2 linked regions of the Homo sapiens genome follow. The protein of the gene in region 2 interacts with the protein of the main gene of each other region in a pairwise test. Each region holds a gene or a part of one and is shown on either strand. Other genes may lie near its edges. The genes, in order: GOLGA7B and ZDHHC5.

Region 1 (12,359 bases), on a different chromosome or scaffold from region 2:
ATTAGTCAGATTAAATCTCAAAGAGCTCTCTGCCTCAAATATAGGAGTTAAAGTCCAGATGACTGCATTTGGGAACATCCCATCCTCTAGCATCTCATCACAGCCTTGAGTCAGCCCAACATGGAATGCTGCCCACTCTGAATGTGGGTCTCTCTCTGTGGCTTCCACTTTGAGGCCTCTAAGACTTGAGGTCTGTTGAGATTGTTACAACCCTGGAGGCAATGTAGGGGAAATAGGGTGAGGCTGTGAAAGCCTCTTTCCCACCAGAGGAGCTAGATATTAAAAGGGATCATTTGTCCTTGCATGAGTGATCTCAAAGCTCTCTATAGACTCTAGTCCTGTGACGTCAATGGGGAGAACTCTCTCTGGGCTAAGTGCCAGCTCCATGCTTGGCACGGAGCAAGCTTTCTATAGGTACTGGCTGAATGATGGACCAAGCTTTCTAGAGGTAATGGTTGAATGATGTGTGAAAAGCCGTTGGCTAGTTGAAGGGGAGCAGGAGTGGAGCTCAGGTTTTTCTTTATGTGACAAAACCTCCTAACCAGCTCCCATCTGTGGCCATTTACTGTGTTTTTTTTTATTGTTATACTTTAAGTTTTAGGGTACATGTGCACAATGTGCAGGTTAGTGACATATGTATACATGTGACATGCTGGTGCGCTGTACCCACTAACTCGTCATCTAGCATTAGGTATATCTCCCAATGCTATCCCTCCCCCCTCCCCCCACCCCACAACAATCCCCAGAGTGTGATGTTCCCCTTCCTGTGTTCATGTGTTCTCATTGTTCAATTCCCACCTATGAGTGAGAATATGCGGTGTTTGGTTTTTTGTTCTTGTGATAGTTTACTGAGAATGATAATTTCCAATTTCATCCATGTCCCTACAAAGGACATGAACTCATCATTTTTTATGGCTGCATAGTATTCCATGGTGTATATGTGCCACATTTTCTTAATCCAGTCCACTGTGTTTCTTTCGCCTCTGTGGGAAATTGTCTGTGCTCCTCTCCTGAGCCATCCCCTCTCTGTTTGCCCTGTGTCCCATTCTCTGCTGGCCTGTTAAGGGCTTGCTCCTGCAATTAACCCTCTCTTTTCTGAATCATCAGTGTTTCCCTCTCTACTAGATGATTCCTGTCAGCAGACAAACATGCCCTAATGTCTTCCCTCTTGAAAGGAAACTCCCTTGCTTCCATGTCTCTCTCAGACCCCCATGCTAGTCTTTGCTTCCCTTTGCAGGAGAAAGAATTGTCTACACTCTCAGTACCTCTCCTCTCTCTCCTCCATGCTAACTCTCAAACCCACTTTAATCAGGATCTTATCCCTGCACCACTAAAATGGCTCTTGTCAAGGTCACTGGCGAACCTTCTTGCTGCCAAGTCCAGTAGTCATTCCTCAGTCCTCATCTTATTCCACCTGTGAGCAGCATTCAACATGGCAGGCAAGGCTCTCTTTCCAGCCTTCTTTGCTTGGCTCCAGGACACCGCCCTCTCTTGAATCTCCTCCTACTTCACTGGCCCCTCTTCTCAGTCTTTTGTCTTCCAGCCTGTCAGTGACCAAGTGTCCTGAATCAGTTCTTGGACAGCTTTTCTAGCTATGCCTACTCGCTCGATGATGTCTCTAGTCCCATGGTTTTAAATGCTATCCACATACTGAAGGGTCCTGAAGTTATATCTCCAACTCCTCATCCTCCCTTATAATTTGCTTATAACATGCACATCAAACTTCAAACCTAAGTGAACAAAACACAACCAAAATGCTGTGTTCTCTATCCCTTCAGGCCTGCTCAGTCCCTAGTCTTCCCCTCTCAGTAGATGGCCACTCCTTTCTTCTGATGGCTCAGATCTCAAGACTTAGACTCATCTTTGACGATCTCTTATTTATTTATTTATTTTGAGACAGAGTCTTTCTCTGTCCAGGCTGGAGTGTAGTGGCACAATCTCGGCTCACTGCAACCTCCACGTCCTGGGTTCAAGTGATTCTCCTCCCTCAGTCTCCTGAGTAGCTGGGTCTACAGGTGTGTGCCACCATGCCTGGCTAATTTTTGTATTTTTAGTAGAGTCAGGGTTTTGCCATGTTGGTCAGGCTGGTCTTGAACACCTGATCTCATCTCAAGTGATCCACCTGCCTTGGCCTCCCGAAGTGCTGGGATTACAGACATGAGCCACCATGCCCGGCCTGCCTTCTTTATACCACACATCCAATCCATCAGAAGATCCTCTCAGCATTACTTTCAAATTATATCTAGAATCTAGCCACTTTTTCCCACCTCTACTGCTACTACCAAATTCTAAGCCACCACCACATCTTCTAAGCCTGGGCTGCTCTAACAGTCTCCTAATTGGTTTTGCAGCTTCTAGCCTTGCCTCCCCTCTGACATCCAGTGGAATCTTTCAAAAACTGCAATTAGATGATGTCACACCCCTACGCTAAACCTTCTTAGGCTTGCCATCTTACTTTATGAGTAGAATCTGAAGTCTTTATCAGGGCCTACAAAACCCTGGAAGACCTGATTCCTGCTACCTCTCTGAGCTCAACTCCCAACTCTCTTCCCCTTGTTCACCTCAGGTCTAGCTACACTGGTCTTCCAGCTATTCTTTGTTTTTATTATTATTATTTTTGGGGACGGAGTCTCACACTGTCACCCAGGATGGAGTGCAGTGGTGTAATCTCGGCTCACTGCAACCTCCGCCTACCAGGTTCAAGTGATTTTCCAGCTTCACCCTCCCAAGTAGCTGGGATTACAGGCAGCCACCACCATACCTGGCTAATTTTTGTATTTTTAGTAGAGATGGGCTTTTGCCATGTTGGCCAGTCTGTTCTTGAACTCCTGTCCTCAAGTGATCCACCTGCCTTGGACTCCCAAAGTGCTGGGATATAGGTGTGAGCCACTGCGCCCAGCCTCCTGCTATTCTTTGAACATACCAAGCCCAGTCCTGCGTCAGGGCCCTTGGATTCTGTCCTCTCTGCCTTGTCACTCTTCCTCCAGGTATCTATATGTCTAGTTCTCTCTCTTCCTTCAGGGCTCTACCCAAATTTCACCTTATCAAAAAAAGTATTCCCTGACTATTCTTTCGAAAATAAGCCCTCTCTATCACTATCTCCTTACCATATCTTCTTCCTAGCAGTGATCACACTTTTCTTCCTAGCAGTGATCAAAACTTGACATATTTTACACATATTTGCTTATGTCATGGATTGTTACCCCCATTACTATATAAGTTCAATAAGGACAGAGGCTTTGCATTTTTAGTCACGACTGTATCCCAATTTCCTAGAAGAGTGCCTGATACACAGTAGGTGTTCAACAAATAGATGTTGATGAATGGATTTGTTGAATGGCCTCATCCAGATATCTAGTCATCAGGTGAAGAGAATGGTTTCCAGAAGGTTGTCTAATTGATGTGATAAAAATCAAGTGGGAGGAACTGTGAAATTTACATGGAGATCATCAGATTATGTGTTCTTTTATTACCAGTGACCACTGCAGGATTCATAGATATTCTGTTTGGTCCTTTATGCCAAATCCTATGCCAAACTATAAGGTAGAATGAGACACCCGCCTTTAACTTCTTTAGCATGTCACTTACACTCTGGGACTCAGCGTTTTCATCTGCAAAATAGGCAGCTGGAGATGTGGTCATTGCTCTGCTAGTCTATGGTCTACCAGATGCTGGAGGGAGGCAATACAGTTAGGAGGATCAACCACACAGGCTCTGGAGCTTGACTGCCCATGTCTGAATCCTGTCTCCATTCCCCACAAACCCTATGACCTTGGGCAACTTACTCAGTTCCCTCATTTATAAAGTGGGAATAATAAAAAGATCACAAGAACACAACTCAAAGAGTAATTGTGAGGATTACGTAAGATCATACATGTAAAGTGTGTAGCATATGGGCTGGCACATGGTAAGTGCTCACTAAATGTTAGCTACTAAAAATGAAAAGTTCTGGGAAAATTTTTGAGGGGTCATCGCTATTAATGTGTTTTAGGGGTGACAAACTGTTCTAGAATATTAGATAATATGGGCATTTTAAAAGCATGATAATTGGCTGGGTGCGGTGGCTCATGCCTGTAATCCTGGCATTTTGGGAGACTGAGGTGGGCGGATCACCTGAGCTCAGGAGTTTGAGACCAGCCTGGCCAACATGGTGAAACCCTGTCTCTACTTAAAATACAAAAATTAGCTGGGTATGGTGGTGCGTGCCTGTAATCCCAGCTACTTGGGAGGCTGAAAATCACTTGAACCCAGGAGGCAGAGGTTGTAGTGAGCTGAGATGGTGCCACTGCATTCCAGCCTGGGTGATAGAGCAAGACCCTATCTCAATAAAATAAAATAAAATAAAGCATGAGAATGGTGTTGTGCCTAGTTGGGATAACGCTTTTCTTCTTGGGAGATGCATGGTGAATTGAAGTACTTACAGATAAAATCTCATTGAAGTACTTACAGATAAAACCTCACGATGTCTGTCACCTTATTATTATTATTATTATTATTATTTTTGAGACGGAGTCTCGCTCTGTCACCCAGGCTGGAGTGCAGTGGCGCAATCTCGGCTCACTGCAAGCTCTGCCTCCTGGGTTCATGCCATTCTCCTGCCTCAGCCTCCCCAGTAGCTGGGGAGTAGCTCCCCAGGTGCCCACCACCACGCCCGGCTAATTTTTCTGTATTTTTTAGTGGAGACGGGGTTTCACCGTATTAGCCAGGATGGTCTCAATCTCCTGACCTCATGATCCGCCCACCTCGGCCTCCCAAAGTACTGGGATTACAGGCGTGAGCCACCGCGCCCGGCCACGATATCTGTCACCTTCTGATAATCTAGGCAAATATAGCTCTGTTTTCATATCTATCAATAAAGCAAATGTGGCAAAAAGCAATTGTTGGAGCTAGGTAGATGGCATAGTTTATTGTACTATTCTTTCAACATTTTGGTATGTTTAAAAATGTCAAAATAAAAGGTTGGAGAAAAAACAAAAGGTCCTAGAAACAGTCTAGTGAAATCCAACACTCACATTTTACAGAAAGAGAACCATAAGCTCAGAAAACAAGACAGTTGCTCGAGGTTATACAGCTGGAAAAGCCTGGGCCAGGTCTCTTGGCCGCCAGGTTCTCCCTGTGTGTGGGCTTCAGACTCTCAGGCAGCAGTGAGCTGCAGAGGAGCACACCCCACCACCCCTCAAAGAGACCAAGGGGTATTATGGGTATGTAAAAAGGCACTTGTGTTGGTGTTTCCTTTTTTTTATGTCTATTTTATTTATTTATTTATTTATTTATTTTTTGAGACAGAGTTTCGCTCTTGTCGCCCAGGCTGGAGTGCAATGGTGTGATCTCAGTTCACTGTAACCTTTGCCTCCCGGGTTCAAGCAATTCTCCTGCTTCAGCCTCCTGAGTACCTGGGACTACAGGCGGGTGCCACCATGCCTGGCTAATTTTTTTTTGTATTTTTGGTGGAGATGGGGTTTCAGCATGTTGGCCAGGCTGGTCTTGAACTTCTGCCCTCAGGTGATCCACCCGTCTCGGCCTCCCAAAGTGCTGGGATTACAGGTATGAGCCACTGCTTCCGGCCTTATTTTTATTTTTTTAAGAGACAGGCTCTTGCTCTATTGCCCAGGCTGGAGTACAGTGGCACAATCATGGCTAGCTGCAGCCTTGAACTCTTGGATTCAAGTGATTCTCCTGCCTTAGCCTTCTGAGTAGCTGGGACCACAGGCACACATCACAACGCCCGGCTAATGTTTTCATTTTTTGTGCAGACAGGGTCTTGCCCAGGCTGGTCTTGAACTCCTGGGCTCAAGCAATCCTCCCACCTCAGCCTCCCAAAGTGTTGGGATTACAGGTGTGAGCCACTGCACCTGGTCTCCTTTTTATTAAACAAATAGATCATTTAGTTGGAATTTATGATGTCAAAAGTGCGAAGGTGGCACCAGAGCCAGACCTGCCATCCTTGGAGAGTGAGCATACCGGTTTGGCACCATCTGCTTGTGGTTTTTGAGTGGTGGTGGTAGTGGTGGTGCGTGTATGTAAACTCGGGTTGCAGAGGAGAGAGGGAAGAGTAAAGGGTGGGGACCAGGTCCAGGAAGAGCAGCAAGGAGAGACTGGCTTCAATTCTGGAGCTGCCTGAAAGAAGGGACCCCAGGCTATGGCTGAGAACGAAATGTGGGCACGTATTTAAAGAAAGGAAATGATTCTCTGCGGTCGGCAGGATCTTTGTCTAGCTAGTGGGGTTCCAGGAAGTGCAAAGGAGAGGGGAAAAGAGGGGCCGTCCGTGCAAGCCTGACTGTGTGTATATGGGGGGGGGGCACACAGAGAGGAAAAGGGAGAGAAAGAAAAGAAATTATTCTAAAGAGGAAGCTGGGGGCGGGGCGAGGGAGGGGTAGAGCCGGGGCACTGGGGGTGGCTGGAAAGGTAGAGAGGCCTCACCTGCGGGCCTGCGAGCGGCTCGGGAGCGGTCAGCCTTGCAGGCTGAAGCGTCTTGCCCCGGAAAAATTCCTGCCCCACTGTCCTTCAGGCTGGATGTCCCGGGGGCCACGGAAGCGAGCGCAGAGCTCCGGGGCTCTCACGAGGGGGAGGGCAGGAAGGGGAGGCGGGGCCTCGCGCGGGGCGGTAGCCGAGCCTGTGGCCCGGGCGGGGCTCCTCTCCGGCGGCGCCGGAGTCTGGGGGCCGCGGCTTCCCCCTCCCGGCCAGCGGCGGCTCCTGGCCCCTCCTCCCCCGGCCGCCCCCATCCCCGCCGCCGCCGCCGCCAAAGCTAAACCCGGCCGTTGCCTGCAGGAGCCGCGGCAGCGGGCGATCGGGCCGTGAGGAGCCTCGGGCGCGGCCTCGCCTCCCGGGCCCGGCGCCTGCCTCAGCACAGCGGACAGCGCCGCGCCCCTTGCCTGGACCCAGCCGCCCGCCCGCCCCCGGCCCACCTGAGCCCGGGCCCGCGGCGCCCGCATCAGCACTGCGGACAGCGCCCCGGGCCCCAGCTCGCCGCCACCGCCGCCGCCCACCTGCTCCCGGGGTCAGCACCGCGGAGACCCCCCTCGCCCGGCCCCGCGACAGCCTCCGAGCGCCCCCGGATCATGGCCACCGAGGTAGGGGCGAGCGCCCCACCCGCAGGCAGTGCCCGATTGCCGCGGGACCAAATGCCCTAGGGGTGGGCTGGGCAGGAGTGGGAGGCGGGAGTTGGGGGTGGGATGGGGTGATTCCCCAGGTCAGGTCTGGAGGGAGGAGGTAGGGGCTTAGTGAGGGCTCATCTCCCCCTTGCGTGTCAATCTTCCCCTCGCCCCACCTGAGCCCCCAAGCTGTCCGCGACACTTGTTGGCATTAGCGCCAGGGTTGCTTCAGGGCCCCAGGCTGGGGTTTCCCCTTCCCTGGACTTCACAAGTCCTGAAACCGCTTTCCTAGAGGGTTGGAGACGCGTGTGTGTGCGTGTGTGAGGGGAGGGAAGGCGGCTGTCCGCTGTTGCTATGCAGTCAGCTTCTGAACCCAAAAGCTTGGCTAAGGGATGACAGACTTACCTCTACATCCGCATTTCCTTTGCGGGAGGGAGGGGACAAAGACATCCTCAGGCTGAGAACCCAAATGGTTGGTCTCCACTTTTGCATATCACCCTTCTTGCTTTTTTACCCCATTCGAGTTTTTTTTTTTTTTTTGTCCCAGGGTGTCCAGATTTCCCCTCCATCTGATGGGAGTTTCTGCCTTCTTCAAGGTGCACTGATAGGTGTGTCACCTTCAAGCACTTGAAGGCTGAACCACGGGGCCTGTTAGCTAAGGGCAGAATCTTGGTATAATGCTTGAGGTCGAGGATTCCCCCCTCTACCCCTAGGGATTGCCCTTTCCCCCCTCATTTCAGGAGGGAGATTGGGCTCTTTATGTTCCCACTTTATACATGATAAAGGTGATGTGTGGAAAACGAAAGGACTAATTTGCTACTCCACACAGCATGTCAGCAGCAGAGCGGAAAGTTTTTGCCTTTGAATTTTTGGAGCGAAACTCAGGACATCAGGGTCTCCCCAGTTCTGATGTTGACTTCCTTTGTGGTGTCTCCCCATTTCCAATCCAGCTGGCATACACTGGGGGAGAGCAGAGGCCTGTGAATGATTCAATGCAGTGCTTCTGGGCATCCTGGTGAGCAGTGTGACATTAATACCAAGTGTGGCTGTTGTTATTCCACTCAAGTTTCCACCACAGAACAAGGTGCTGTTGCTTGGCATTGCTTGGCATTCTGACAAGGCACAAGGTTAGCTAGGCGGAGAGTTGCCCCTCAGGACTTGGTGTGAGGGCAAGCCCTGGGCAGACCCTGGGAGCTTGGTTTCTAGAGTAGAGGAATGCAGAGTACTCACAAAGCACCAAAGACATGGAGGACAGCAGGAAGAACAAAGGGAGAAACCAAGGAGTTGGTTACCTTCCAGATAGGGCTGCCAGACTGCAGCAGAGGCTGCTGTGTTGGACAGAAAAGGGGAACTTCAGCTACATGGGCATGGCTGGGCCAGCAGCGTGGGCAGAGAAGGCAGCTGCCTCTGCGATGTGATCTGACAGATTCCAACAGGCCCATCTGTCCCAGGATGTCTGCCATGGCCCACAGATTCCAACCAGCAGGCTTCTATCTCTATGTCAAGACAGCGTTTCCAGGAGGCTGCTATGAGACATGTGTGACTCTCCCCTGGGAGGGGCTCTGCTCATAACGCCTCTGAAAATATTGCGCTTTCCTGTGTACAAAGCACTATCGCATAAGTGATCTCTTTCAAGCCTCAGAGCAGCCCTATGAAGTGGGTAAGGATGGTGTTATTATGCCCAATTAACAGATGAGACAACTAAGGTTCAGAAACTTGCCTGGTCCCTGTGAAGGAGCCAAAGAAGGCATCATTATCCCATTTTACAGATGATGGAACTGAAGTGCTGAGACTTATTCAGGAAAATATGGCTAAAAGGTGGCAGGGATGGGATAAGAACTTGAGTCTTCTGCCTCTTTGGCCAGTGCTTTTTTTTCCTGCATCCAATTAGCCTATTGTGTCACCTGATAGAGAGGAGGGCCCTCCAGGTCTTGATGTGAAGCTTTGGTGGAGAGAGGGATGCAAAGGAAGTCATGAAGGGCTGGAGTGTGGGGACTCAGGCCCCCTGCTTGGCCTGGCTGGGTTGGTTTGAGGGCAGAGGGACAGAGGAAAGTCCCGGAGTGATGGGGAGCTGAGGACAAACATTCCTCACTTCACAATTTGGCCTTGGGTGGACTCTGATGGCAGAACTGAGGCAGGAAGCCTTAGCTCTGCCAGGGCACAGGACCTGCACGTATTCTGGGTTGTGGGGTGAGTCATTCTCCCAAGGCTGTTTTTACTGTTAGAATTGAGTTGAGATTACCAGGATAAACTTGTTGGGAGAGGGAAAACATCGCTTTAAGTTCCCATGATTATTCTGTTAGGATTCTCAATAGGAACTCCTCAGCTCTAGGAGAAGCTGTATTGAGAGAAGGAGAGAGGGAGAGGAAGGGGGTGGGGAGAGGGACAGAGAGGGAGGGGTGAGGGAGAGGGAAGAAATTCATGGGTGGAAACTGGGTCTTTTCTGTTCCCTAATTTCTGTTTAGGAGTTAGCATTAGGGGAGAGGTGTCTGTAAGGAACTCAGAGGAGGGATGGAGCCTCCTGAGTGATACACTGACCTCATTTGGAGAGCTGCAATGAGCCCATTTTCTGAGCAGCAAACCTCTGTGAATGTGTGTCACTGGGAGCAGGGTCTGCCCTGGGAAATAGTCCAGATGGCCAAGGACAACTGGGAAGTGCCTGGCTGGGAGGGGCTTCTCCAAGTGGTGGGGTTTGGTCTCTAAGAGATTTTTAAATGCATCCAAGTAGCGTTATTCAAGCAGGGTGTTTGGAGGTTTGATCTTTGAGGCATGGAATTAATGATGAGTAGACAACTGGGTCAGGCTTGAGCACTGGTACAGGCTGAGAAGAAGGGAGGTCTTGTGGCTGGTGTTTTATCCTTAGGCCTGACCTGGCTGTCTGTGACTCATGATCCTCACTCCTCCTTCACACCCCAGCCAGGAAGCAGAGTGCTGGCATCAGCGGAACCTCCTAATTCTCGATGCCTCACATGCATCCTATGGAATGAGATGGTTTTTAATGAGGATGAAGATGGCGCCAGGGGGGCACTCCTGTTGGACTTGGGCAGACTGGACCAGGAGCTCATTTGCACTCTAGAGCTTGTTCCTCTGCACCCCAGCTAGTTGACTGTCAGGTGAACAGGAGCCAAATGTGTGACCTGTGGTACCCACTCTCCAGGCAGACTCCCCCTCCTTCTCATACTGCAGTTTGAAAATTGGTACCCATGGGTCTCACCACTGATTTTCTTCCTTATGAAATGCTTCTCGGCCCTGTCTTCACTCTGCTGCCAGTGAGCCAGGGGTGGCAATGGGAGAGAGGGGCAGGGTTGAGGAAGGTGAGAAGTGGAGAGAGGCTCAGGTCTCTGGGTCAGTTAAGAACCCCCTGGGAGACACCCAGGGGAAACACAGAAACTGCAGCTTCAGAGAGAGTTGTGCACATATTTTGATATCCTCTGGTAGGATTTCAGAGCATCACGGATCTCTGCTGAAAACCCCACCAGCTTTCTGAAAACTTAGTAGCTGGCCAGTGGCCTGGAGCCTGGCTTAGCTCTTGCCCAAGGGGCCCCAGCCATGGGATTCTTTATTTAGAGGTCTTAAACTAGCAGCTCTAGAAATGAGTCTGGTCCATGGGTGTGCCTTACTTAGTCTGTTGAGTGCTTATACATTTTAAAAATGTATTGGAAATATTCAAAAATCAGAATATTTGATGTTAAAAAGATCTAGATTTCTGGCTTCTTTTGAGACACCAGAAGTGCTGGCAACCTGGGTATACATTCCCACGTGGCAATAGTCATCTGTCTCCTTGAGATGGGGCACCAGTTTTCTAATTAGCCCCAGGCCCCACCTGGCCCACTTATTGCTCAGCCCCTGTAAACATTTGCATTCATAATCCCTGATAAAGCCTCTAGAATGTCAGAGATGAAAGGGGCTTGAGCAATGATGTAGTTCCAGTTTCTTAGTTTCCAGTTGAAGAAATGGAGGTGCAGAGAAGGGAAGACTTTCCCAGGGCCATGTGGCCCAGGGTCAGGTCTCCTGCCCCCAGGTCAGTGGGCCATCTTTCCACTAGGGCTTCCTGGCACTTCACACTCAAGCCACCATGAATGGAGAAAACCAGGAGACCCTGCCTTGCCTTAAATCCGGCTCTTCACCAACTTCAGATGAGTCTGTAATATATGTACTCTATGTAGGTCTGGGAGACTAAGGCTCTGCCATATAAAATGTGTCTGATATCATCCTTTAGCAACTCCTCAGAGTTGCTCCTCCACAAACACTCTCCAGGGAGAGAAGCAGATCTCTGGTCACCCAGAGCCTGGATAGTAGTCTAAGGCTCAGGATATTGTTGGTGCTGAAAAGGGTGTTGACTTATCCTACTCTGGCTACTTGAGAACCTGTGGATCAAAGCCAAGAGGAAATGGGAATTTATTATGTAAGGTAGCACCCCCAAATCTTAATGTATTAATAGCTTAATACAATAGAAGTTTGTATCCTGCTCAGTGAAGTTCCAGGTAAGTGTTCCTGATCAACAGGTATTCCAGGCGGTGATTCAAGGCAGTGATTCAGTGATTCAGGGACCAAGGCTCTTCCCAACTTGTGGTGTCACTATCTTCAACACAGGGCTCCACCAGCCTCCATGAAAGGGGAAAGAGCAGGGAGAAATGGTACATCTTTATGAATCAAGCCTACACATGGCATTCGTCACTTCCTCTCACATTCTACTCAGTCATAGGGACACACCTAACTGCAAGGGAGGCTGGGAATTAATATAGCTGTATGCCTAGGAGGAAGAAGAAATGGCTTGGGTCAGTAGCTAGCCAGTCGCTAGAGACACACGCCTTCAGGACAGCACACAAATATGTGTGTACACATGTGTGCATTCAGGCACAGATTTAACACAATCCCTATCAAATTAGCAACATCGTTTTTCACAGTATTGGAAAAAACAATGCTAAAAAAAGAAAAAACAATGCTAAAGTTCACATGGAACCAAAAGAGAACCTGAATAGCCAAAGCAATCCTATGCAAAGAACAAATCCAGAGGCATCACATTGCCTGACGTCAAATTATACTACAAGGCTATAGTAACCAAAACAGCAGGTTTTGTATGGGTCAGAGGACAGGAAGCTGAGTCCATATCAGAATGGTTTCTTCCCTTTCTTTCCATTCTCACCACTGCTTTTCTCACCACCTCTTTAGTTTTTTCCATGGACTATTAGAAAGAGAATCATCCCTCCAACTGGCCCCTCACCCCAGTCTTGTCCACTTCCCACAAAACTGCTAGAATGAGCCTTC
Region 2 (12,025 bases):
GCTGGACTCAACTCTTGAGCTCAAAGCGATTTGCCCGCCTCAGCCTCCCAAAGTGCTGGGATTACAGACATGAGCCACCATGCCCAGCCAGTTTCATTTTTAGGCAAAGCAACTCAGTTTCTTGGGGATCCTGCCAACCTATCCCTGGATGATGAACTTTACCCTACAACCTTCTGGATATCAACTTGGTCCAGATAAAGTGTGTAATCCTGGAATGGAATTCCAGTATCTGTTGCCAAAATAAAGTCTGCCCCCACAGTGCCAGAATCTAGAAATGATGCAAATAACAACTTCATGGACAATATTTGCTCCTAGATTCACAGAACCATTGCTTCCAATCAGCACTATAAGGGAACACCCCACCAAGGAGAGGCATGTGTGAGCAGAGCCCGTTCTTGCCATATCCCAAATTCTGCTTGATTTAAGGAGAGGCTTTCCGTTGCTATGGTACTTTGCCAGATTCCTAGGTGACCACCCCAAGTGGCCTGTCTGAATCTGTTGCCTTTGATGGAAGATGAGGCCAGAGCTCAGAACAGGAGATGTTGGGGCTCGTCCTTAGACTATGGCAATAATCATAAAGCTCTAAAAGCCTAGGGAGTGGTCACAGCCCAGAAGGCTGGCTGACTCATTGACAGGACTACCAGACCTATACCATCTCAGGTAGAACGGGTTCTTCTGCCCATCCATTCAGCACTCCTGTTTTCAAGACCAAATAAAATTGGCAGAGTGGGGCCAGGTATGGTGGCTCACGCCTGTAACCCTAGCACTCTGGGACACCAAGGTAAGTGGATCACCTGAGGTCAGGAGTTCGAGACCAGCCTGGCCAACATGGTGAAACTCTGTCTCTACTAAAAATACAAAAATTATCCGGGCGTGGTGGTGGGCACCAGTAATCCCAGCTACTCGGGAGGCTGAGGCAAGAGAATCACTTGAACCCGGGGGGCAGAGGTTGCAGTGAGCCAAGATCGCGCCACTTCACGACAGCCTGGGCGTAAAAGCCAAACTCCGTCTCAAAATATATATACAAAATAAAATAAAAAATAAAAATAAATAAAATTGGGAGAATGGATTCCAATATCCACACTCCTGAAACCCTGTTTCAGAGCACTCCCTAATGCATCCTGTTACAAAAAAATGGTTAAGTTCTTAGAAAGAAACACAAAGTAGGAGTCAAGAATCTTTGGATTTTAATCCTGCCTCAATTAATACTTCTCTATGCAAGGCCTTAGGTAATCCACATGAAACTCTCCAACCTTGTTACTTCAGCTACATAGTACAAACATGAGAATGAAGGAGAAAGATCTTCATTCAAAAGTTATTAGAATTCATTTTTTTTGAGACAGGGTCTCGCTCTGTCACCCATGCTTGGCTCACTAAAATTGCCTCCCAGATTCAAGCAACCCTTCAGCCTTACCCTCCCAAGTAGCTGGGACTACAGGTGCATGCCACCATGACCAGCTGACTTTGCTTATTTTTTGTAGAGACAGGTCTCACTATGTTGGCCAGGCTGGTCTCGAACTCCTGGGCTCAGCGATCCTCCCGCCTCAGCCTCCCAAAGTACTAGGATTACAGGTGTGAGCCACTGCTCCCAGCCGCTAGAATTTTTTTTTTTTTTTTTTTTGAGACAGAGTTTTGCTCTGTCACCCAGGCTGGAGTGCAGTGACGCGATCTCGGCTCACTGCAAGCTCCGCCTCCCGGGTTCACACCATTTTCCTGCCTCAGCCTCCCGAGTAGCTGGGACTACAGGCGCCCACCACCACGCCTGGCTAATTTTTTTGTATTTTTAGTAGAGAACGGGTTTCACCGTGTTAGCCAGGATGGTCTCGATCTCCTGACCTCCTGATCTGCCTGTCTCAGCCTCCCAAAGTGCTAGAATTCTTTTTAAACTAGCTGGCTTGATACTGAGCATTCAGTGGACAGAAGACAAAAGAAAACATTATTAACTATCACCATCATTATCATCATCATCAATTATTCCACCTCTACCTTCCCCTATCTGAAATACTAGGAATTCAAGGACACTTAAAACAGAGACACTAAGCTCCTAAAGAATAGGTCTATGCATTCTGCCCATGCCTAGCATATTGCTTGAGCATATGACTAGTGTTCCTTGTTGATGAGAGAAGGCTGAAATGAATGTTCCACTTCCTGCCCATGGGGATCCTCATTTAGAAATCCTTTCCTCAAGATTCCATGAGAAAACAATTTCTCCCTTTACAGGTGGGCAACCCAGTTTCTCTGAAAACACCTGATTTGTGGTACCCAGACTTTCAACCAGCTGAATGTGAGACGTAGGACCTGGGCACTTATTCCTGGATAAGAAAACAATGTGAGAAGGAAAAGGCACAACCACTGCTCCATTAATGTGCTAAATCACAAGGCTGCTCCCACTCAAATCAGGTGCTAATACCTCTGCAGTTACGGGGGAGGGGGGACCAGAGAGAACTCCATGGAGGTCGGCCAACTTCCTGTGGGTAAAAGGGTTGGAAGAGGACTGAGGCAGAAACTGAAAAGCCGCAAACTATATAATGGATGGGAGCCTGAAAAGACCATCATGGATTTCCATACAACTCTGACTTTATCCTTCCCTTAGATCACGTGAAGTGGCCAGGTGCGGTGGCTCACGACTGTAATCCCAGGACTTTGAGAGGCCGAGGTGGGTGGATCACCTGAAGTCAGGAGTTTGAGGCCAGCCTGGCCATTATGGTGAAACCCCAACTCTACTAAAAATACAAAAATTAGCTGGGCTTAGTGGCAGGCGCCTGTAATTCCAGCTACTCAGGAGGTTGAGGCAGGAGAATCGCTTGAACCCAGGAGGCAGAGGTTGCAGTGAGCCGAGATCACACCACCACACTCCAGCCTGGGCAACAGAGTAAGACTCCATCTCAAAAAAAAAAAAAAAAAAAAATCACGTGAAGCAGAGATCTTATCCTGCCCCCTCCCCACCAGCTTTAGAAATGGATAAAATAGGGGCTGGGCGTGGTGGCTCACGCCTGTAATCCCAGCACTTTGGGAGGCTGAGGCGGGCAGATCACGAGGCCAGGAGATCACGACCATCCTGGCTAACACGGTGAAACCCCTTCTCTACTAAAAATACAAAAAATTAGCCGGGTGTAGTGGTGGGTGCCTGTAGTCCCAGCTACTCGGGAGGCTGAGGCAGGAGAATGGCATGAACCCAGGAGGCAGAGCTTGCAGCGAGCCGAGATCGCGCCACTGCACTCCAGCCTGGGCGACAGAGTAAGACTCCATCTCAAAAAAAAAAAAAAAAAAAAAAAAAAAAAATCACGTGAAGCAGAGATCTTATCCTGCCCCCTCCCACCAGCTTTAGAAATGGATAAAATAAGACCTTAACTGGACTAATTCACAGTTTGATGAGACTTTAAACAAGATACAATTCAAAGTGATTCGAAATGGTGTTACCAGGAGCACTAGGTCTCAGGAGATCCTACACGGTAAAGAGGCGATACCAAGGGGCTGGGCCTCTATATGCCAGCCTCACTTGAACCAGAGCAGCCCTAATTTTTATGTTGGTTTTTTTTTTTGTATATAAGATTTCATTTGAAAAAGGGTCATGTTGCTTAAACAAACTGCTGTAGGTCAACGTTCTCACTGTAAACAGGAAGAACTTAGGTCCACAAAGGTTAACAGACTTCACCAGAATCAATCTCCTGACCTCCCCCAAAGAGGGCTTATCCCACTTACCTAGGACTGCCCCTCTGCCAGTCAAAAAACAAGATTAAACTAAGATAGATAAGCATCCAAGTAGTTATCCTAAATGAAGTCTAGTAACTAACTGGGAGGTAGAAGGTTACTTCAGCAGACACTCTCCCTCCCAAATAGTGAAAACAGAGAAGAATTAAGACAGGATCCCCACCATTCCTTAGTTTTAGTGCTGGACAAATTCAGGGAATGAGAGGGATTAGAGTTCCAGGAGGAAGGCCTGAACTGTTCTGTTCAAGATTCTCTGGGGCAGATCACTATTTCTTTGATGCAAACTCAACTAGTAATTTCTGCTCATAGCTTTCCCCAACTTAACAAAGAAACATGGAAGGTAAATTGTTCCTAACTAGTTGAAGTCTACATGCCTCCACTAATTATGTCTGTTACCTGAAAGGGACTCTCCCTCCTACTCGCATTCCTCTATATCCCAAAGTAATTCTCACCTGGGGCTTCTAATAATGTAGCTAGTTGTAGCCTAGTGAAGAGAATAGGAGGATGATAGAGTAGTTACAGATTTACAGCCCCACATAGGAGCTAGTTCAGAGAGTTTTCCTCTTGCCTCTCCATTTGAAACCCTGAACTCTTTTTTAGGTTGTATGGTTTTAAACAGGGGATTCTCCAGGGAACTGAACCTCGAAAGAGGTAAAATACATGAGAGGATAGTTTTTAAGAACAGTGGTGCCTCAGCCCAGATATATGCTTACAGAGGAAATACTCTAGTCAGATGGAGAAGAGGAGATGAGAATTTCAGAATTACCCGAGCTAGGTGCTAGAGTAAGATAAACAGTGTGTTTGTGCCCCCACAAGGTGACTAGGGGAGATGCTTAGGAAAAGATGGAGCCCAGAAATTGGTCCTGTGGAAACTAGCGCCAGGGGGAAGGAACTCCAGCTATGACTTAGGGTTCTTCTAACTTTGGATGAGAGGCAATAATTCCAAATAAGGTCAATATTGTCCTCCAAAATCCTTTTTCCTAGAGCTAAGAGACCATGGAATAAGGAGGGCTCCTACTTTACTGGCACCAGGGAATGAGAAAGTAGGTTAAACAGCTTCAACTATCAGTTGAGAAAATGCCTATGTCAGGACAACTCTTTGTAGGCAAACTGGTATAACCAGTCAAACACTTCAATGGTTCCAGATTAGCAAATTAAAAACAAGGATTCAGCTTGCTCTATCTCAAGAAGAGGGAGCTTGAAAGACAGAAATCATTTAGTCCCCTCAATTTCCTTCTCCAAAGGCTTTGCCTCTTAAAGGAAAATAGACCCTCCCCAATTGAGCAGAGTTAAGGGTGTCAAACTGGTCTTGTACATACCCCTCTTGACCCAGAACCAAAATTGCTACAGGATACTAAGATATAATATAAATGTCCCTTAGTTAAAATTTTGATTCTACTTCCTGGCCATATTAGCAAAAACCAAAACAAGTTCTGACACCAAAGACTCACCCCTCTTTCTGGTAGTAAATGTATGAAGAAGGACAGAGCACTGAACATGTTGAGTTTAAGCAAGAGGAAAAGGTTATGAAGAAAATATTAAGTCAGAGAAAAGCAGCACTGTCTCTAGATCCTTGAGAGACTCCAGCAGGTATGCTCAAGCTCAGAGCTGGGGGCCAAAAAATCTACAACTTCTCTGCTTCAGAGGAGGTGAGAAGTAGGATGGTGTTCATGCCTTAGATAGTGATTCTTTCTCTCCTTCTTTAAAAACTAGAGAAATACATCAGTATTACTTTGCTGACTCTTTAGACAATGTGACCCACATTTTTCAGAATATCTTTTGGCTTCTAAAGCTAAATATGGGGAGTTTTCCTTCCCTCCTACCTCAGATTTAACTTGTGTATAATTGCCTCCACCCCAATAATCTCTACTTCAATGAGCCCAAGTGTTTTTATTCCCTACCACTTCAATTCACTTCTTCCTCTTTCCAGCAACCTCATGTTGCTCTGAATAACACTTCACAACTAGGTTTGAGCCTGAACCATGACAAAGTAACTTCCCAGAAGATCCAGCATGCTCTGATGATTCCAAGAGCTGCAACTAGAGCACTAAATCAATGACTCAACAGTATAAGGCTCAGAAGCCTGGTACATGTTAATTTATAAACAGGTAACAGCAAGGATGCCTTCCAGATGGTCAAGAGCTTAATAAAAAAAAAAAAAAAACTGAGGAAAAAGGGAAGGTTTAAATCACTCAGTCTCTTCCAATAACAAGTAAATGAAGAAAGTCTGAAGATCAAAGTGAGAATGATGCAGATCCTAGATCCTAAATGGGAAATTTTTTCATACCAACTGCTTTTCCCAACAGAACCAAGTAATGGGAAAATTACTGTCATTCCCTCGGCAGAAACTAACATAAAGGGACTCTTTTAGGACTCTCTTCCCAAATACAACTTACCCTTTCCTTTCTCAGTGGCCTTCACTTCTCCAGGCTTCTGTTCTTAAGAGTACAAAGAAAACCATCTGGGTAGCACTAAAAGCCAAAACTCTCTCATTGGTGTATCTTATAAATCAATTCTGAAATTTTCCAATACTCTCAGTTTCCACAATCTCAAACCTAAGTTTCAGACATCCTGGAAAAAAGCCATTAGCATTTAAAAAGGCTTTAGTCGGCCCAGCATGGTGGCTCACACCTGTAATCCCAGCACTTTGGGAGGCCAAGGTGGATGGATCACTTGAGTTCAGGAGTTTGAGACCAGCCTGGCCAATATGGTGAAACCCCATCTCTACTGAAAATAAAAAAAATTAGCCAGGTGTGGTGGTTGGCACTTTTAATCCTAGCTACTAAGGAGCCTGAGGCAGGAGAATCGCTTGAACTTGGGAGGCGGACGTTGCAGTGAGCCGAGACCGCGACATTGCACTCCAGCCTGAGTGACAGAGCAAGAGACGCTGCCTCCAAAAAAAAGCCTTTAGTCTAGTCTAGTTCTCTTTCTCATAGAATTGACTGCTTAAACTGCTTTAAGCCTCTCTGGTGGTTTCCTCCCACTTCCTTCCTAGCTTAGGATCATCTAATGATGGAGCTGGGTAGAAAAATATGAAGACATCTATGATTCCAAAATAAAGGAGGAAAGGGTAGGTAGAAGATTCAGCGAAGTAAAACTGATAACACGACTGAAAGGACAGGCTTTTTCTCATTTTTCTTACATGTCTCTGGGATTTGGATTTACCTGTACCAGACGCTGAGCCCTCTCAGTCACTTGGCTTTGCAAAACTCAAGAGAAAGCGTTATCTCCTCACTTCCCATGGAGTATCCACCCACCCAAACACCCCTGCTGGGAGAAAACTCACGTAAAGGCAAAGAAGAGTGTCGTAGCTCCCACTAGGAAGATGGCGGCTGCAGAGACCGGGACATACTTGCTGGGTTTGAATCTCTTTCCAGACTCTGCGGGCATGTTGGAGCTCTGATGGGAAATCTGCCCTGCCGCATAGCCCAGGCCCACACAGCGGCAGAACAGACAAGAAAATGGGAGGAGGGAAGCAACAGAGAGGAGTACAAAAGAAAACCAGGGAAACAGAAAACTTTATCACCCTTCCCCCTCCCAAATAAAGCCAAAGGTCAAAAGATCTCAAATGAAGGAAAGCACATGGGAGGGGGAAAGGTGATTCCAAATGATGAATAACCACCTCCCCAGAACAAGGCAGAAGGGAAGATTAAGAAACACAACTTGTACAGTTTAAAAACTGGAGACAAACAGTAGGCTGTACACATGCAAATGGTTGCAGGTGGAAAACATGGACAGTCAGACAGATCAAGATACAGCTCATGGATGGAGGCAGGTCTTCAAAAGAAGGAGAGAATATCAGGGTATGGCAAAAAAACTTTGGGCAAAGAAAAATTCTTCTGAGATACTATAGTACCTCCACGACTACAGTTCCATAAAATGTGAGCTGCACCTAAAAGAGGTGTGCCCTGTGTTTCTATTTCTATTTCAATCCAAGAAGGAACCTGAGGCCCCTTCCAACTTTAAAGAGGAGCTTTGTTTACTGCAGTCTTTGTCTCTTTTAGGTAGTCTTCTCAATGCCACCACTCCCACACCCTGACTTCACCAGGGCTTGTAGTCTGGCAATGGTGGTTTAATTTATTTCTCTCTTGATGGCTAAAGCTGGACAACAGCTGTTCTAAGTTTGAGCTGTAAATCCTTTTCTTTGAAGGGGCAAGGAAAACAGGGCAAGCTTCTCTGTCTTCAATCTCTTCTTGTTATTCCCAAGCCCTTTAAGGGCTCTGTTTCCTACAAAGTTCATGTAAAACTAAAGGGAAACTTAAAATCCTTGAAGCCATGTTCTTCCCAATAGGCAGAATAAGATGAAGAAATCAATTCCAATTGATGACACTTCAAAAGTTTACTGTGGATGAAAACGAAGTTCCAAAGATGTCCCTGTTTCCAGACTAGTCAATGTCTCTTATCTTTCTTCAGTCTTCAGCTTTCCAGATGCAGAGTTCAACCAGGTTACTGTGTCTCACCTGGAGAAAAACAAGTATCTTTATCAGAGAATTCTTTCAGGGTATTTCTTAGACACCAAGGCTAAAATTCCACAGGCTGCTGTTAAAAAGTACTTTCTGAAAGAAAGACTGTTTTCCATTTCACTTACATGTATGTGGGTAAGAAGGGACTCTGAATTCAGAGGAAAACTGACTTGAGAATCCTTTGCTCTGTTCAGATTGGAAGCAGAACATGGCTTCACCTGGCCAAAGGACATCAAAGGACTAGCTCTTGTAAGGGGCCCATCTCACCTGACATAGATGGTAGTAACAAATACCAAGAATATCAAAATCACAAACAAGGGCACAGCAGTGAAGGGCAGTCCTAGAACAAAGATTTCTCTTTGGACAAGAAGAGTGTTTATTGTTATAGTGAAAAAAGAAAAAAATTAACCTCAAAATTAGGAAAGCAAGTCTCATTTTCTTTCTCTGTGTGTTTCTTTTGCTCCTCTATGCTTTTTAGTTACAATCCTGAAGAGGTAGAAGCTGAATTTTTGGTCTTTTGGAATCACCCATTAGAACACTGGGTAAGAAATGTTCTTGCAGAGAAAGCCATGATGCCCTCTATGAGAAACTGAATAAGCATAGCATAGGGTTGGTTCTTTTTTCCCAATTCAACAGTTTATTATTCCTATATTGGCCTAAGGTAACTGAGCCCCACCTGCCCCAATATGATTAAAAGTAACAATTATTTCTGTTGATGACAATAACAAACTAACACCAGCACCTTGGGATTTTATAAAATGCTTTTCATCTGGTGATCTAAAAGCACTTTACTCACATTATCTGGTGACGCAGTCCCTTATCCCACTCTTTAAAATTGAAGGCTACAGAATGCCCGAGGACATTCCACTGAATCACCTCAGGTTCAGAACTCAAGAGGTCACATGCCCCTCTGGTGACACAAACCCTTTCTACCTTTTCATCCACTACCTGCCCAGAGATGATAACTTGGAATCTGCAAGCCAAAAATTTTAAGTTAGAATTTTAAAAGAAAGTAGTTTTATTCCCTTCTCTACTAAAAATACAAAAATTAGCCGGGCGGGCGCCTGTAGTCCCAGCTACTCAGGAGGCTGAGGCAGGAGAATCACTTGAACCCAGGAGGCGGAGGTTGCAGTGAGCCACTGCACTACAGCCTGGGCAACAGAGCAAGACTCTGTCTCAAAAAAAAAAAAAAAAAAATCAGAAGATTCAGATAACAAAATATAAATGTGCCCTATAATGTACCACTTCCTCTCTCACCTATGGCATGGAAGGCAAAGGTGCCTTCCCTTACGATTCATTTCTCTCTTTAAAATTAGGGTTTCAGAGGGCCAAACAGCAGTATTAGAATACAGTGAGCGCCAAAAGATTCTAAGAAACTGTTATAGTCCTAGAAAACATAAATCCTCTCTAGTCCCTGATTTAATGATTATTTAACTCTCAGTTTCCTACAGGAATGGAAGCCTAACATTTGGAATGTAGGCCTCAGTAACTTTGTTAACAAAAGCAAACTCTTGATTTGTAGACAATATGTACTTTTTTTTTTTTTTTGAAACACAGTTTCCCTCTGTCACCCAGGCTGAAGTGCATGGTGTGATCTCAGCTCACTGCAACCTCCGAGTCCCGGATTCAAGCAATTCTCCTGTCTCAGCCTCCCGAGCAGCTGGGATTACAGGAGGGCACCACCACACCCAGCTAATTTTGTATTTTTAGTAGAGATGGGGTTTCACCATGTTGCCCAGGCTGGTCTCGAACTCCTGACCTCCAGGTGATCTGCCTCCTCACCCAAAGTGCTGGGATTACAGGTGTGAGACACTCTGCCCAGCCAATATGTACTATTAAAGCAAACTTTTCCCTCAAAATCCCAAAGACTAGAAAAGATGGAAAATTATACTACTTAAATTTTATCTAGAGTAGAATATCATTTAGATACTATATATTGTTTCATATATTTTCCACAGGAAAAAAGTCACATGGACTAATATTGACATAGTAATACAGAGTCATGAAAGGCCATGCAATTTTGGGAGTATAATACTGGGAACACAAAAGAGAACAGCATCTGAGATGCTTGGGGGCTACACAGTAGAAGGGAAATCAAAAACCTAACAATTTATTGGGTATAAATAAAGATGAACCAATTCTTAGCAAAAGAATGTGCTGCAGATACTAGGATGAAACCACAAGGGTGAGTATGGTTCATCAGAGTCAACAGTTTGAATCCATACTAGTATCAAAAAAGTATACAAGAATATGTATGCCAGCTGGGCACGGGGGCTCACGCCTGTAATCCCAGCACTTTGGGAGGCCGAGGCGGGCGGATCATTTGAGGTCAGGAGTTCGAGACCAGCCTGGCCAACATACCAAAACCCTGTCTCTACTAAAAATACAAACAAATGAGCAGGGCGTGATGGGGCATGCCTGAAATCCCAGCTACTAGGGAGGCTGAGACACGAGAATCGCTTGAACCCGGGAGGTGGAAGTTGCAGTGAGCCAAGATAGCAGCCACTGCACTCCAGCCTGGGCGACAGAGCCAGACTCCGTCTCAAAAATGAGAAAAAAAGTAATATGTATGCCATATTGAGGCACAGAGTAAACTATGAAATGGAAATATGTATATGTAAAACAAACAATACAGGATATGTGGTTTGAAGGCTTTAATAAGGTTTAATACAGGTATTTCCTTAAATAGGTGGATACCAGCAGTACCAAGGACAACACAACTATTTTTTGTTGAAATAAGCGGTGTAACAGTACAATAGAGTAAATCTAAATGCACAGTAATGGAGGTACCATGGAATAATTCACATGTCAAGGTATGGGAGAAAGAGCCAAGAAGTTTAATGTGGGTGTTATCATTATATACCGAGGTAGCAAAATACATGGCAATATAATTTTGTAAACATTAAGTTTATACAATGGGTGATAATGAGCATTCTGAAGATATTTGATCCAGGACAGAGGTATACTGAGATAGAAGGATGATATGCAAATGTTAGATCAACTTGGTCAAGATGGCATTAACCAGGAAGTGAAGAATCCAAGGCAAAAAATAGTCTAGCGTATAACGTATATGTGATCCTACAACTGCCTTCCTAACTTTTAGCAACTTTCTTACTTCTTATTTCAGTGTTTCATTTGGCCAAGTGGGTAAAACACTTTCCACCTGCCTGCCCCAAATATAGGTAAAATATTGACAAACGCATTCGGGCTCCACTTTAAAAAGTACAAAGTACTAAACGCATGGAGCACTCGGCTGGTGGCGGTAGGAGGAGGAAGCGGACGGGTGAGAGAGAACAGGTAACAGGATGAAGCTTGAGCCAAAATAAGTATCAGCAGAGTGGAGCGAGGGACTCGAACCGCAGAGCGGTAAAAGGGAAACAGCACCCGGTCCCCACCACGGGACTGGGGAAAGGAGAATCACCCGTTGGGGCAGGGCTGACGACCGCTGAAACCGAAAAGAAGGAATCCACGGCGGCCAGGCCCACCGAGGTTGAGAGAGCGGGCTGCGGGGACCGCAGAGCCCGAGGGCGCAGGGCCGGGGGCGGAAGGGGCGGCGGCTGGGCGCCAGGCACCGGGGACCGCGGTCTCGAGCTGAGTGGCCGTCTCTAACCCGTTCCGAGCCCTGGCGGTCGTGGATCCCCGGCCTCTACTCGTCGTCCGTTTCCAAGGCCCATGGGTCCCGCCGCGGTTGGAAGACCCGGCCCGGAGGAGAAATAGGGCCTTAATACCCTCCCCGTCTTCGGTCCCCCTTCCCTAGAGGTCACCCTCCCCTCCCACCTCGCTGGTACGGCACTTCCGGTTCCGCAGGGACCGGTGTCCTCCGCACTCACCCGCGAGCCCGGTGCCCGTCA

Evidence for each region.
Region 1: the proteins of ZDHHC5 (region 2) and GOLGA7B interact in binary tests that used the Homo sapiens proteins (3 or more experiments, as listed by UniProt).

The regions. Positions count from the first base shown.
Region 1 is NC_000010.11:97,843,246-97,855,604, forward strand, and holds the start of GOLGA7B (golgin subfamily A member 7B), read left to right. Parts: upstream 1-6,597; 5' UTR 6,598-7,058; coding exon 7,059-7,070; intron 7,071-12,359.
Region 2 is NC_000011.10:57,668,167-57,680,191, reverse strand, and holds part of ZDHHC5 (palmitoyltransferase ZDHHC5), read right to left. Parts: 5' UTR 12,005-12,025; exon of another isoform or gene 11,596-12,004; intron 8,172-11,595; 5' UTR 7,102-8,171; coding exon 6,998-7,101; intron 1-6,997. UniProt on the Homo sapiens protein: Palmitoyltransferase that catalyzes the addition of palmitate onto various protein substrates such as CTNND2, CD36, GSDMD, NLRP3, NOD1, NOD2, STAT3 and S1PR1 thus plays a role in various biological processes including cell adhesion, inflammation, fatty acid uptake, bacterial sensing or cardiac functions.